Regions from separate parts of the Homo sapiens genome. Here all the other regions are linked to region 2. The links come from fine-mapping of genetic effects on gene expression. A gene starts in region 2. Each other region holds a variant in brackets. All regions are shown on one strand. Distances are from middle to middle.

Region 1 (2,765 bases), 68 kb after region 2:
TGTAGTTTTTCCTCACTAAAAATCAGTTTCTAGAACATCTAAGAAATCAAAGATGATGAAAAATATTAAGATGTTTTATATATATGTAAAAGTCTTCACAGTTGATTGATCATCTCATGAAAAATTTGTACAGTCACTGCAAATAAAGTCATTGCAAAATCTTTACTCCTTTTGCTTTTTGCCAGCACTGACATTGGCCTTTGCAGTCTCTTGACTTCATTCTGCCCTCGCATTCCTTTTGCTGTTTTCTTGAGGTCATTTCTTCTCATGCCAGCTGTGTCTTGCAAGTCTATGTTCGAGTTCATTTTTCTTTGCATAATTCAAAGAACCAGATAGCATGCCAAAGCCCATTGTTTAACCACCACCAACACGGGTTCTGAGTCCAACTATTAATATGAAGATGACACCTATTGTGGTCTTGTACATTTTGTTGCCTTTCCGGGGTGAAGGACATTGGTGACCATTTGTTTCCTCTGGAGTGGTCGATTGGTCATGAACTTCCTGGTCCAGATAGTTACTGTGTCATTTATCATGGTGGTTGATCCTCAGGTAGTTAGGGAGGAAAATAAGCAAGAAGTTATATATTTAAAACCACGTTTCAATTTTAGACCTGATTAATTGACTTAATAAAGGGCATTAGCGCTTCTACTTCCTACAGTCCCTCCCTTTACCTCTGGAAACTAGTTATTTCTAGGTTATTTTATGTTGTTAAGGTTGACCACCTTCTCTTTCTGTTCTGCAATCATAGCCCTATTTTTAAATGGATTCACCTCTCATAATTAGCCTTTTGTCATGGTCATTCAATTCACAAGTTGCTTATTTTTTAATTTCTTGGCTGACTAAATTTCATTATGAAGACTTTTTTTTAAAAAAGAGCTCAGAAATACTGTACTCTTTAAGTTCTTCAACATGTGATCATGTCTTTTGCCTATTTTGATTGGGCAATAATTTAGCTGGCTATAAAATTCTTGGATTATACTCTATTTCCCTTAGAAATTATAGGCACCCATCCACTGACATTTCATTGTGCTTTCTTTTTTTTTTTTTTTTTTTTTTTTGTGAGATGGAGTCTTGCTCTGTCACCCAGGCTTGAGTGCAGTGGCGCGATCTCGGCTCACTGCAACCTCTGCCGCCCATGTTCACACCATTCTCCTTCTTCAGCCTCCCGAGTAGCTGGGACTACAGGTGCCCGCCTCTATGCCTGGCTAACTTTTTTGTATTTTTAGTAGGGACGGGGTTTCACCATGTTAGCCAGGATGGTCTCGATCTCCTGACCTCGTGATCCGCCGGCCTTGGCCTCCCAAAGTGCTGGGATTACAGGTGTGAGCCACTGTATGAGCCCAGCCTCATTGTGCTTTGTACTAACCCCCTTTCCCTGGTCTCTTCCAGCTTGTCTTCTTCTCTCCCAGTAGTTTCTTCATGAAGAGGCCATGTGCTATATTCCATGAGATATTTCACACTCAAAGAAGACTTCTTTTATACTCTTTTGATAATTT[G/T]TCTGGGAATCACTGTCTTGATTTATAAGGGAGTTTGTAATAAATACAGTAAAAGAGAAACACACAACGTATTTTGAGACATCAGAGAAGAGAGAAACCAATTCTATTAATATTTGGGGTTAGCAGGGAAGGCTTAGTTAAGAGGTAACATTTGAACTAAGCCTTGAAATAAGGGAAGGATTTGGACATGCAGTAATGGGGAGAGAGTAGAAGCAAGACATGATGGTTAGTGTTATGTATCAATTGGACTTGGTTGTGGGGTGCCCAGATATTTGGCTACACATTATTCTGGGTGTGTCTCTGAGATATTCTGGATGAGGATAACATTTAATTGGTAGACTGAATAAAGCAGATTGTCCTCCCCAATGTGGGTGAGCCTCATCCAATCCACTGAAGGCCTGAACAAAACAAAAAGGTAGAGTCACAGAGAATTTGCTCTTTTTACCTGATTATATTTGAGCTGGGACATCAATCTTGTCCTGACTTTAGATGTGGACTCGAGTTGGAACTATATCATTGGCTGTCCTGGGTCCCCAGCTTGCTGGCTGCAGACTTCAGGACTCCTTAGCCTCCATAACCATGTGAGCCATCCCTTACAACTAATCAATCTGTCTCTCTCTATGTGTATAGCTCTACCTCTATCTCTCTGCTCTTTCTCTGGAGAACCTAGAACAATACACAAGGTTATATTAGAGAAGAGGATGACCCAAGGAAAAGCATGGAGGCAGAAAAATGCAAAGAGGGTTTGGGAAGACTGGGGTCCTGACGGGGAGTTTGGATTTCACTGTGTGTAGCATGGAGAATCCTTGAAAATATTCAAGAGGTGAAAATTGTATTTGTGGAAGAACACCAGGAGTATGTGAAAAGAAAAACACTCACTCCATTTTAACTCCACTGAAGGAGGCATCAAAGGGATGCACTGGGGACATGGGGTGGAGGGTAGTTGAGGCCATATCTGGAGGATCTTTACTTCTAGGCTGAGTCTGAAGTTATCTTTCTGGGGAGTGGGAGATTACAAATCTTTGAGCTCCACTCAAGAGATGGTTTTGCTAACAATGGCAGGGTGACGGTGGTGGTGGTGGTGGTGGGAAACTGGTAGCATGAATTCTAATTGGGCTTCTGTTATTCTAGCCGAGAAAGTTGGGGAATGGACTTTCGGTAGAATAATACAGACCTGGGAATCAACTGCATGGAGGAGGTAGTTATAGGTGATGAGATGGCTCAGGGACAAAGTTTGGTAGAAGGAGAAAAGATACTAGGCTGGTACAA
Region 2 (2,765 bases):
CCTAGATTTCAGCTTCTTGACAAATGAGAAATTCTCCACGGAGCCCACAATGCCAAACAGTGAAGGGCCCTCTGGATAGGGCATGTGCTCTCCAGCTCGCTGCGGGCCGCACCGAGACCCCCACCCCTTCCCATTATCTGCCTGGCAGTTGCCCGGGGACAAAGGTGTGCACAGTTGTGCAGTAGGTTATGAAGGAGTATCTGGGTGCCCATACACCCTAAGACCAAGACCAAGTCTTCCAGGAAGCCATCAAGCCAGCTGATTCCAGGCAAGCAGGTCCAAGTTATCAGATTCACCTGCGCAGAGCAAATGGCTAGGAAGCGGCTTCCGGATCTCTTGAAGGGCCATGCAGTGAAGGTCCGTCACCAAGGGGACCATGCCCCACAAGAAGTTGCTCCCCGCCCCCACGCCTCATTTTGATCCAACATACACCCAAGTCCCAAAGTTTCTGCGGGCTAAGGCTGCCTCCTCCATCACTGCTGAACTCCCAGCACACAGCACACAGCCTAGCACTCAGAGTGTACTCAATAAATGTAGACTTCATACCTGCAGAGCCTAAGGCACTGCTTAGGGCTGCCTCAGGGTCAATCCAAACCTTTCACTTGCCAACTGCCATTCAATGAGTCCCTACTCTGCTCCAAGCTGAAAGACATCCTAGGCGTTCCCTACAGTTCCTTCTAGTCGGGGTAGGGTCTGCCGCTGCACAGCTGACATAATTAATCACTTCCTTCCAAACCTTGAGTCCCGAAGGAAGCGGCCACACTGCCCGGCTCACCGCTCACCGGCTGGCATGGTGTCTCGTGGAGCTGCAAGTTACTTAACCTCTCTGTGCGCTTCCCCAGCCTTAGAGTGGGGATAAGCTGGGGTTTCTCTAGGCATCAGAAAAAAGAAAGCGCGAGAAGCATTCAGAACTGTGCGAGATATGATCAGTGTTCGCCGCTGTTATTTCTCTCATTTTATCCTCAGATTCGTCCTGGGGTGTCACCCCCGTCACCCCGAAAGGATCTGCGGCTGCCCCTCCCCAGCGCTTGCCTTGCTGGCCAGAGGGGCCAAGGGAACTGGTGGCCTCCCTCGGGTCAGCCTCGCCCACCGCGCCGGAGGAAGGAGATCCAGGAGTGGGGTTCTTGTCCTCCGCCCCCCAAACCTCGTCACGACTGCAGCCGGCCCGGCGGGGGCCCCGCCGTCCGCCTCAGTCTGGACCTCTGTAAAATGGGGGTAACAGCGCCGACCTGGGGGGCCCGCCCCGGGGATGAACGGCCGCCCAGAGCGACTCGGGACCTCACGTTACCAGCAGGCTGGCACGACTAGCAGGTTACGGCTCGCCAGGCGGCCGGGGCTGCGACTGACCTGGCGCCCTCGCCCAGCTCCCCATGCGTGTTGTAATTCACTGTCATGACCTTCACGGAGTCCTTGAACACCACGTTCCCCTGGCTCAGATATTGCAGGGTGCGGCGGATGGGGAAGCGGCCCTTCATGGGCATGGCGGCAACGGTGGCGGGGCCGACCCCACGGGCCGCGAGCCGAGCAGCGACGAGAAAGGACTAGCTAGCACCCGCGCGGATCTCACGCGGCTTCTCCCCAGAGCCAGGTTCCACTTCCCGCGCAGACGCACAGGAGACGCTTCCCGGCGGGCAGCGCACGCCGCGGAGCACTCTGGGACTTGTAGGCGGCCTTCGACCCGGCGCGGCGAGAACCGGTGTGTGCAGCTTCGCTTTAGGACGCCTTCCCCTTGGAAGGTTTAGGTTGTCGCGTCCTGTAAATTAGTCATTTCCCCATCCACCCACGGGAAAATATTTTTACATAGGCTAAAAGTCAGACATTGCAATAAGAAATAATCAGGAAAGCTCAGTTTGGATACCAAGTCAGCTGATAACGTCCTATTGAACGTATTGTCCATTTTTCTCCCCAAACATCTCCAGTTTTATCATGAAGAGTTCAAACTGCACTTTCTGACGTTGACTTAAACTTCTTAGCAAAAGAAAAAAAGATGGTTTGGGATCAATTCCTTCCTAAATTCAGCCACTTAACTCAGGACCTCAATTTTTTCGTAAACAAACTATGGGTGAGATGTATTTCTAGGGCCAGGCGCGGTGGCTCCCGCCTGTAAACCCAGCCTTTGGGGAAGCCGAGGCGGAAGGATCGCTTGAGGTCAGGAATTCGAGACCAGCCTGCCCAACATGGCGAAACCCCGTCTCTACTGAAAATACAAAAATTAGCCTGGTGTGGTGGCAGCACCTGTGGTCCCAGCTACTCAGAAGACTGAGGTGGGAGGATCGCTCGAACCCGGGAAGTTGCAGTGAGCCGAGATCGCGCCACTGCACTCCAGCCTGGGCGACAGAGCAAGACTCCCTCTCAAAAAAAAAAAAGATACATTTCTGAAGTACTCTTGATCTGAAAGGTATTTCTCCTTCTCTTTTGAAGAGTGATTTTGCCAGATTTAGAATTCTAGGTTAGTGTTTTTCCTTTCCCTCCCTCCCTTCTGGAGTGCAATGGTGCTATCTTGGCTCACCGCAACCTCCGCCTCCCAGGTTCAAGTGATTCTCCTGCCTCAGCCTCCCGAGTAGCCGGACTTACAGGCATGCGCCACTACACCCAGCTAATTTTGTATTGTCAGTAGAGACGGGGATTCTCCATGTTGGTCAGGCTGGTATCAAACTCCTGACCTCAGATGATCCGCCCGTCTCAGCTTCCCAAAGTGCTGGGATTACAGGCGTGAGCCACTGCGCCTGGCCCTGGTGTTTTTCTTTCAACAATTTAAATAGTTC
Region 3 (2,765 bases), 66 kb before region 2:
TAAAGTGATTGGCCAGCCTTTTCTTTTCAGTTATAAATAAACAGAGCTAGCAGTTATGTGTACATGGATCCTGGGAGACATACCTTGCAGGATCTCAGCCTCACCATACCTCCTATAAAATGGTTGTGCTTGTCCTGCCTATTTCTTAGCCAAGAGAGAGCTAATCCATATTTTTTAAGCTAAAAGTCACTGTAAAAATACTGGATTCTGTTGACTTCATTGTAGTGAATTTGTTGTTAAAATGTATGCTTATGAAAGAAAAAAAAATTTAATAGCCCAGTAATGAATTAATTGATAATATTTTATCAAATTGAGATATAATTCACATACCATAAAATTCATTTTTTAAAAATATACAGCTTAGTGGGTTTTAGTACATTCACAAGAGTATGCAACCATCACCACTATCTAAATCCAGAATGTTTTTATCATGCCCCCACTAAAAAACCCACATCTCTTAGCAATTATTCTTGCTACCCCTGTTCCCCTGTCACCTGGCAACCACTAATCTACTTTCTGTCCCCATGGATTTGCCTATTCTGGACATTTTAAATAAATAGAATCATGCAATATATGGTGGTCTTTCGTGGCTGAGTCTTCCATGTTGTAGCATGTATCAGCACTTCATTCCTTTTTATTGCCAAATAATACTCCATTACATGGATATACCATGTTTTATTTATCCATTCATCATTTGGGAGATATTTGAGTTGTTTCTACTTTTTGCCTGTTATCACTAATGCTGCTGTGAACATTTGTATACAAGCTTTTGTGTAGACATGTGTTTTTCTTTGTCTTGAGTATATACCTAGGAGTGAAATTATGGGTCATATGGCAACTCTGTGTTTACCCTTTGAGGAACAACCAGACTGTTTTCCAAAGTAACTGTACCATTCTACATTACTACCAGCAATGTATGAAGGTTCCCATCTCCACATTTTCACCAATACTTGTTATTGTCCATGTTTAACATTGTAGCCATCCTAGTGGATATGAAGTGGTATCTCATCATGGTCTTGATTTGCATTTCCCTAACTAATGACCTTGGAACATCTTTTCCTGTGCTTATTGGCCATTTGTATATCTTCTAGGAGAAATTTCTGTTTAACTCTTTGCTCATTTTTAAATTGGGATTTTTGTCTTGTTATTAAGTTGTAATGATATATGATTTGCACTTTTTTTTTCCCCCATTTTATAGGTTGTCTTTTCACTTCCTTGATGGTGTCTTTTGAAACACAAAACTCATTAATTTGAGTTCAGGTACGCTGGCTCACACCTGTAATCCCAACACTTTGGAAGGCCAAGGAGGAAGGATCACATGAGCCAGGAGTTGGAGACAAGCCTGGGCAACATAGGGAGACCTCATCTCTGCAAAAATATTTAAAATTAGGTGGCGCACGCCCATAGTCCCAGTTACATGGGGGGCTGAGGTAGGGAGATCACTTGAGCCTGGGAGGTTGGTTGAGGCTGCAGTGAGCCAAGATTGTGCCCCTGCATTCTGGCCTGGGCATCCAGGAGTGAGACCGTGTCTCAAAAAACAAAAAAAAAA[T/A]TTTTTTTAAGGCCAGGTGCAGTGGCTCACGCCTGTAATCCCAGCACTTTGGGAGGCCCAGGCGGGTGGATCACCTGAGGTCAGGAGTTGGAGACCAGCCTGACCAACATGCAGAAACCCTGTCTCTACTAAAAATACAAAATTAGCCTGGTGTGGTGGCTCATGCCTATAATCTCAGCTACTCAGGAGGCTGAAGCAGGAGAATCACTTGAACCCAGGAGGCAGAGGTTGCGATGAGCCGAGATCGCACCATTGCACTCCAGCCTGGGCAACAAGAGTGAAACTCCGTCTCAAAAACAAACAAAAAAAATTTAAATTGGCCCGGCATGGTAGCACACACCTGTGATCCTAGCTGCTCAGGAAGCTGAGGTTGGGAGGATTGCTTGGGCCCAGGAGGATGAGGCTGCAGTGAACCATAATTGTGCTACTGCGCTCTAGCACAGGCAACAGAGTAAGAGATCTTGTCCCCCCCAAAAAAAAAGTTTCTAGTTTTAATGATTATTTTCTAATTTTTCTTGTGCTATTTTTGCTTTTGGTGTCATCTAAGAAACAATCACCTAATTCAAGTTCACGAAGATTTACACCTGTGTTTTCTGAGAGTTTTATAGTTTTAACTCTTACATTTAGATCTTTGATCCATTTTGATTTTTTTTTTTTGTAATAGTGCAAGGTAGGTGTCCAGATTTGTTCCCCTGCATTTGATTTCCACTTGTCCCATCACCATTTGTCGAAGACTGTTCTTTGCCTATTGAATTATCGTGGCACCTTTATCAAATTTGAACATATAGGTGAGGGTTTATTTCTGCATTCTCTGTTATATTCCATTGGTCTGTATGTCTTGTCTTTATGCCGGTACTGCAATTTTTTTAAGTTACAAATTGAGTTTATATTGCATATATTTACAGTACAAAGTGATGTTATGATCCGTGACTACAATGTGTAAAAATTAAATCAAGCTCATTAACATATCCATCACCTTAAATACTTATTTTTGCCATGAGAACATTTGAAATTTACTCTTAGCAATTTTGAAATGTACAATAGGCTATTATTAACTGTATTCGCCATGCTGTGCAATAGGTCTAAAAAAAAAGAAAAGTATTCCTCCTAAGATTTTGTACCTTTTGACCTGACTTTCATCTCCCCATTCCCCCTGCCCCTCAGCCTCTGTTAACTACCATTTTACTCTGGTTTTATGAGTTTGATTCTTTTAGAT

Evidence for each region.
Region 1: its variant is fine-mapped to the expression of MRPS25 in whole blood (TOPMed, PIP 0.94).
Region 3: its variant is fine-mapped to the expression of MRPS25 in whole blood (TOPMed, PIP above 0.99).

The regions. Positions count from the first base shown.
Region 1 is chr3:15,131,674-15,134,438 of GRCh38, forward strand. It overlaps the pseudogene RPS24P10. Among named protein-coding and RNA genes, the nearest start is that of RBSN, 34 kb to the left of the region's middle. The variant G/T (reference allele first, on the strand shown) is at 1,497.
Region 2 is chr3:15,063,714-15,066,478 of GRCh38, forward strand. MRPS25 (mitochondrial ribosomal protein S25) reads right to left here and starts at 1,602. Exons shown (of 4, transcript NM_022497.5): 1 at 1,348-1,602. The coding sequence starts at 1,481. RefSeq lists an enhancer at 1,582-1,761.
Region 3 is chr3:14,997,476-15,000,240 of GRCh38, forward strand. All of the region lies in intron 1 of NR2C2 (nuclear receptor subfamily 2 group C member 2), which reads left to right. Among named protein-coding and RNA genes, the nearest start is that of FGD5-AS1, 50 kb to the left of the region's middle. The variant T/A (reference allele first, on the strand shown) is at 1,550.